Homo sapiens: one gene and its partner. The protein of the gene in region 1 interacts with the protein of each later gene in a pairwise test. Each region holds a gene or a part of one and is shown on either strand. Other genes may lie near its edges.

Region 1 (3,752 bases):
ATTTGTCAAGTCTGTGGTTTGGGTGTCAAGATGTTCCAGAGCACAGCCAAGGTCAAGAACCAGGACTGTAGAGCAGTTTTCCCAGATAACTGCAGGTTGCCCATTGCTATAGAAATCATCCTCATGTTTATTAATTGTTCACGCCTTCTGAAATAGGGAAATCTGGCCATGAATGTACCCTTTTTTTTTTGCAGGGAAGTGGTGTGACTCAGTTTTGTATTCAATGTCTATTCTTTGCACATGGAGGAAAGACACAGTCCTATTCCACCCGTGGGTTTCACCTGTAGTTGCTTCTTGCTGTTGACATCATGGTGGGGCACAGAGACAGCATCTAATTCATCTTTGTCATCTAAGTGTGTTCCCACAGTACTCAACCATAGACTCTGGGTTCTAGGATTGTTTGTTTAACTAAAGGACCAGAATTGAATATATTCCTCTATCTCCTCCTTTGGGGTTTTCTATTACAGTGGGCTGGGAATACAGTTAACAGAACATGTAAAGCATTGTAACTTAATAGTTCAATAAGACACTGAGGGCCACAGTTCAGCTTTAGCTTTTGGACTTGGTGACACCTGTGCTGGATGCTCACAGAAGGGCCTTTTACCTCTTCTGTTTGGGGATTCAATCTAGAGGGATAGAGAGATTCTAGAGCTCTGGCTTCCTAATAAGGGGAGTTTTCTTTAATGAAAATTCCAGGTGTTTTATCTGATTTGCCAAATGAAAGTAGAGTTCAATTCCGAGACCTCAGTTTTATAATCTAAAGACAGGAATTATTAATAAACTTTTACAGTAATACAACATAAAAAGATACAATCTCTGCAGCCTTAACACAGAGAGATTTCAACTCTATTTTGGTTTTTCTTTGGTTTCGGACATAGCCTGTGGTAGGTTGGATGCCCAGCTTTGCTATGTAATTGATGTGTGACTAGCAAGCAAGTTATTCAAACCTGTTTGGTACTTGTTTTCATCCTTTGTAAGATGAAGATGACAACAGCTCCTATGTCATTGGATTGCTATGAAGAGTTAGAGCTATTTGTCCAGGCAGAAGGTAAAGGTTTTGCCTCTCCTCATGCACAGGTGTCAAAGCCACCTTCATTGGGATATTCCCAGTGCATTAGGCAGTTTCTCTGGGAAATCCCCAATTCCTCTCTTGTGTAATACTTGTTTCTTATTAAATACCCGGATGAGTTGTCATCTGGGTCCCTTCTTAAAGACAGAGCTCCAATGACTCCACCTACCTATGCTTACCTGTTTGAAGCAGAAATTTTATCCTCTTCCTGGATTGTTGGTACTGAAAGGCTCAAAGTTGGCTCTCTGGACATACATACGATATCAAATCTCACAAATGCAGTATCAGGAGAAAGAAATATACAAGCGAGACTGTTGCAGGAACTTCCTCATTCTCTGTCTTTTGAAAAAGTCCCTCTCCCTTACAGTAGGGTAAGCTTTCTGTTTATCTTACCAGAAACACAGTCCTTTTACTGTCCCTGGGTCAGTGCTAGAAACTCTTGAACAGCGCATTTATTCATAAACCAGAGCAACATCAAGGAAGCCAGGCAACATCACCTCTATATCCCAATTCTGTCCCTCTTCTCAAAGAATGTCCAACATTTGATTTTTTTCCCTATTTTCTCAACCAACTTGTTTTCACATCTAGAAAAATAATGCCTGCTTTTCCAATGGAATTAGCCCCAGACAAGAAGATACTTAACAGATACAAATGAATAAAGTGGAAAAAAATAAATGGTTGAGGTGGCAGAGGGCAACAAGGCACTGAAGATAGTCATTAATCAAAGCATGCAGGTGGGAGTGCGGAGTCAATGTCCACCCACTAGGTACTTTGAAAGGAGATCTGCTGCCTTACCCCAAGTCCTGGAGCAGCTCAGCCTCTCCATCGGATCTGCTCCACAGATCTGAGGGATCCTGGGTGCTCATCTTCCCTTCTAGAAGTTCTGCTCTGCCCATTCGCGCCCTTCACAGAGGTAGAGAGAGAGACACAACTGGGCTGCTCCTGACACCTTCTCGCTCTGTGAGACAGCAGCCTGCTATGGCTCTGAGTCTCCAAGGCAAGGAAGTGAAACTTGGTTACTTACTCCTCCCACCAACACCACCACCCTGGCCTGGAGGCACTGGCAGGAGTGTTCTGTCAGTCAGGAAGTATGCAAACTTAGGTAGCTACCTCTGAGGACACCCACACTACATCACGCAACAGGCGGTTGCTATCAAAGGAAATGAAGAGGCAACCACCCCACCTGGGATTGGACAACAGTGCAAACTGCTTGTGTGAGGCCAAACCCTAGCTTCTCCCTAATGCTATCAGCCTCTGGTTTGTAGTGGAGGATGCGTGCACTCTTTTACCCCATCTTCTTTCTGTCTTACACACCAACACAGGGAACACTGAGGAAGCTTCTCTATCAGGAACACCTTTAGAGTGGATAGAAAAAGCAGAAGCAAACCACAAATTCGACCCTGAAGTTTGATGTTTTAGCACTTTTGCAATATTTCTGCTTGTTTACCCAGACCTTCTAATATATCCTCAATGCTCCGAATAGGGATGATTCAGAGACAATTATTGTTTCCTCCACAGAAAAAGAATTAGGAGAGGAGAAGGTAGGAAAAAGTTACAAGGGGCCATTCTGGTGCCCACCTAATGGGGCATATTAGAACTCCTGGAGTCTTTTTTTTTTTTTTTTTTTGAGACAGTCTCGCTCTGTCACTCAGTCTGGAGTGTAATGGCATGACCTGAGATCACTGCAACCTCCACCTCCCAGGGTTCAAGTGATTCTTCTGCCTCAGCCTCCCAAGTAGCTGGTATTACAGGCACCCGTCATCATGCTCTGCTAATTTTTGTGTTTTTATAGAGACAGGGTTTCACCCTCAGGTGATACACTCACCTCGGCCTCCCAAAGTGCTGGGCTTATAGGCATGAGCCACTGCACCTGGCCTGAACTCCTAGAGTCTTTGAGTGCCACTTCCTTCATGGGCTTACTCACACCTGCATGGCTTTGTGCCCAGATTCATATGTAGAGCAGGATTCTATCTGCCTGGAATGCTAAAGGTAAATTGCAGTGACTGAATCCTTGGGAAGTGGAACAAAGTGCAGTATCAAATGAGTCAAGGACATATGTTGCTTCCTGCCTTTTCTATGTACCTACAGGTCTCTCTCTCCCTCTCCCTTTCTCTCTCTCTCTTCCTATCTCTACTCCCTGACTCATTCAGCACTCACCACAGTGCTCTGTAACTTGTTCTCACAGTGTGGCCTGAGGACTAAACAGCACAGCAGAACTGTTCCTAAAGGACTAGATGATTGCAAAAGGCTGCTGTGCAATGGTTCTATCCTTCATCTTCCTCCCTATTACCACTGTTCACCCGGGATCGGTGAGACCCGGGTAACACTGGTTGCCAGTGGGAAGTTCCTGAGTGTCTGGAGGCAGTCTGCTGAAGACTAAGCTCTGATAATACATATATAACTGACTAAATGAGCACTTAAATTCTTTTGGCTACAGTTTGCTCACAGAGAAGGACAGGGCCCACTTGAACAGAGAGGCCAGTGCAGGCCAGGGAGATACTGAATATGCATACAGCAGTGACAGGGGAACAGCCTGGGCACTAGAGTTCCTGTTCCCTCTCTAGAGCCCTTTATTTGGTGTTTTAGTATCTATTTCATTCCCATTTTTAGCAAATTCTGGTTGTTCTTTTTCTTAACTTTTTTGGAAGTACAAGTAGCAGAATTTTCTAAGATCGTCCTGCTT
Region 2 (3,752 bases), on another chromosome or scaffold:
TCTCAAGTCAACCCATTACCTTCTTCTTTAATCAGGATCTAAAAATACTTTAGCTTTTATCAACTGACTCTTCTTCTGGCCCCAACTTCATCTCAGCATCATGAACATAAAGCTCTTCTAGCCGGGCATGGTGATTCACACCTGTAATCCCAGCACTTTGAGAGGCCGAGACGGGTGGATCACAAGGTCAGGAGTTCAAGACCAGCCTGGCCAAGATGCTGAAACCCTGTCTCTACTAAATATACAAAAATTAGCTGGGCATGGTGGCAAGTGCCTGTAATCCCAGCTACTTCGGAGGCTGAGGCAGGAGAATCGCTTAAAACCCGGGTGCCAGAGGTCACAGTGAGCCAAGATCAAGCCACTGCACTCCAGCCTGGGCGACAGAGCAAGACTTCGTCTCAAAAACAAACAAACAAACAAACAAACAAAAAAACTCTTCCAGCATAAATACCTAGAAATCACAATGTTTTCAGCTTGCTTTCCCAAACACCCCACCCCTCTCAATTCCAAATCAAGTAGGCAATGAATCAAAGAGATGAAGATACCTCCCCAATAGAATGATGAATCCATTTCCATTTAAAAAAAAAAAAAACAACTGAGTACAGAATCATATAAGCTTTAGAGATGGAAAAACCTTAGAATCCTCTAAATCTACTTCCTACCTCCTGTAGTTACCACTTCAGTAACTTCTCTGGGCAGTACATTTGTGACCTGGAATCTTAAGATGTGGGAAGGTAGGAAGGTTCTTTGGCTTGAATGTTAAGTAATTCTGAGTATAGTTTTTGTTTATTATTGATTGTTTTGTTTTTTTGAAACAGGCTCTCACTCTCTTGCCCGGGCTGGAGTGCAGTGGCACGATTACAGCTCACTGCAGCCTCAACCTCCCCAGTTCAAGTGACCCTTCTACCTCAGCCTTCCAAGTAGGTGGGACTAGAGGCACATGACACCACGCCCACCCTTGTAGAGACAGGGTTTCACTATGTTGTCCAGGCTGGTCTCGAACCCACACGAGGTTTCACTGTGTTGCCCAGGCTGGACCCCTGCAATCCTCCCGCCTTGGCCTCCCAAAAGTGTTAGGATTATAGGTATGAGCCACCACTCCTGGCCTGAGAACAGTTTTTAAAAGTTGTACATGGATCTTGTAGGTGACATGGTTTGACAGAAGTAGATCAAAAGTAATCTGTGTCATTTGTTTACTATTACTTCATTGTCTCTTACACGATTTCCCTATTTTAAGAAGGTTAAATTTTTTACCTACTAGCAATATTTTTAAATGTCTTTTAAAAGATATGAGCTATTAAAAAATACCCAAGTTACTTTTGGGCCCAAAACTGAATAGGTTTTTCATCTTCTAAAGATCTCTTTCAAGTTTGGTATAGACAGACATGGCTTTACTCAGTCATTCACTCAACAAGTACACAGCAAGGGCCTAACTCTAAACTGGACACTGCACTGTGCATTGAGAAGATGGAGAGCAGGAAAGATAATGTCCCTATTCTAAGGGAGCTTTGTTTTATAGAAGGCACAGTTGGATCATCACACAGAATTACAAATTCAGAAAAGTGCTAGGAAGGCAAAGCACAAGATGCTCTAAGAACATAGAGCCTGTAATCCCAGTGCTTTGGGAGGCTGAGGCAGGTGAATCACTTGAGGCCAGGAGTTCAAGACCAGCCTGGCCAACATGGCAAAACCCCGTCTCTATTAAAATACAAAAATGAGCTGGGCATGGTGGCACATGCCTGTAATCCCAGCTACTCGGGAGTAGCCCAAGAATCACTTGGGCCCGGGCGGCAGAGGTTGCAGTGAGCCAAGATCACATCACTGCACTCCAGCCTGGGCAACAGAGCAAGATTCTGTCTCAAAAACAAAAAAAAAAACAAAACAAAAAAACATGTAATAGGGTAAAACTGATACACCATGGGGATTCAAAGAAAAATTTCCTGAGGAAGTGATGGTTAAGCTGAGATCTGAATGGAGGCCATTCATATTTATGTAAAAACAGATGTCCATAAAATGAGAGGATTGGTCCAATAAGCCCAGCTACCTTACCTTTGGCATCTTTTATCCTACATCCTAAAACAATCTTTTTTTTTTTTTTTTGAGACAGAGTCTAGCTCTGTCGCCCAGGCTGGAGTGCGGTGGTATGATCTTGGCTCACTGCAACCTCCGACTCCAGGGTTCAAGTGATTCTCCTGCCTCGGCCTCCCGAGTAGCTGGGACTATAGGCAAGCACCACCACGCCCAGCTAATTTTGTATTTTTAGTAGAGATGGGGTTTTACCATGTTGGCCAGGCTGGTCTCAAACTCCTGACCTCAGGTCATCTACCTGCCTCGGCCTCCCAAAGCGCTGAGATTACAGGTGTGAGCCATGGCGCATAGCCCCACTCCCCTTTTTTGTTGTTTTAAAGAAAGGGTCTCATTCTGTTGCCCAGGTTGGGGTACAGTGGCACAATCATAGCTCACTGTAACCTTAACTCTTCGGCTCAAGAGCCCTCCTCGCTTCCCAAGTAGCTGTGACTACAGGCACATACCACCATGGCCAGCTAATTTTTTTTTTATTATTTTTTTGTGGACACAGGGTATTGATATATTATCCAGGCTGGTCTCAAACTCCTGGGCTCAAGCGATCCTCCCACCTCAGTCTCCCAAAGTGCTGGGATTACAGGTATGAGCCACTGCACCCGACCACAATCTCTTTTTTTAAAAAAGGAGAACAAAGTATGTAATAAAGATGTTTACGGCCGGGCGCAGTGGCTCACGCCTGTAATCCCAGCACTTTGGAAGGCCGAGGAGGGTGGATCACGAGGTCAGGAGTTCGAGACCAGCCTGGCCAATATGATGAAACCCCATCTCTACCAAAAATACAAAAATTAGCTGGGCGTGGTGGTACGCACCTGTAGTCCCAGCTGCTCGGGAGGCTGAGGGAGGAGAATCGCTTGAACCTAGGAGGCAGAGGTTGCAGTGAGCCGAGATTGTGCCACTGCACTCCACCCTGGGTGACAGAGCTAGACTTTGTCTCAAAAAAAAAAAAAAGATGTTTAAAAGCTAGTAGTTGAAAGTCTTTTGGGGAGAGGGACAGGGTCTTATTTAGCTCTGAATACCTCACATCACCTTGCCTGGTATTATTACTATCACAGTAGTCACTCAAATCTGGTAAAATGATTAGTGTCAGTATTAAATCAATGTTAATACTGTCTTTAAATAAATTTGCAAAACTACATCTCCTCACACAAGAAACCCCACTCTAAACTTCCTCGATTGTGAAAAGATGTTTTAATCTACCTCAAGAATTTAATAAAATAATATATGGCAAAATGCCGGGGTAGATTCTGAAGTGCTCGGAGTATATAATATCCCTGTGATCAAAAAGGTGGATCAGTCTCTTCTAAGCTGGTTTAGACTCAGCTGTGCTTCATTTTCCTTACTATGAGAAAAAATTCTAACAGGTTTGCATCCCCTCTCTGGCCTTGGTTCGCTCTGAGGAGGGTGAAATAACAAACTCTAAAGTTCCTTCTAGCTCCAGACACTGACCTGTAAACCTTTTAAAAGGATCAAGATTGCACTCCTCAGCATGAACGTTAGACTACTTCCTCACCTACTCCATTTCCCCAGGACCCCATGTTTCCTCTCAGGAATGGTAGCACGTAATTAATGAGTTAAGTTCTTTAAAAGACCTATTTTCTACTCATTTTACACACAGACTTAAGTTGAATTTACTCATCTAAATTAGATCTTCTGAATAATCCAAATAA

The links. Proteins that work in one complex are often made in the same cells at the same time.
Region 2: the proteins of DAPP1 (region 1) and WDR20 interact in binary tests that used the Homo sapiens proteins (3 or more experiments, as listed by UniProt).

Annotation. Positions count from the first base shown.
Region 1 is NC_000004.12:99,815,127-99,818,878, reverse strand, and holds the start of DAPP1 (dual adapter for phosphotyrosine and 3-phosphotyrosine and 3-phosphoinositide), read right to left. Parts: upstream 2,053-3,752; 5' UTR 1,966-2,052; coding exon 1,865-1,965; intron 1-1,864. UniProt on the Homo sapiens protein: May act as a B-cell-associated adapter that regulates B-cell antigen receptor (BCR)-signaling downstream of PI3K.
Region 2 is NC_000014.9:102,142,830-102,146,581, reverse strand, and holds part of WDR20 (WD repeat-containing protein 20), read right to left. Parts: intron 1-3,752. UniProt on the Homo sapiens protein: Regulator of deubiquitinating complexes. Activates deubiquitinating activity of complexes containing USP12. Anchors at the base of the ubiquitin-contacting loop of USP12 and remotely modulates the catalytic center of the enzyme.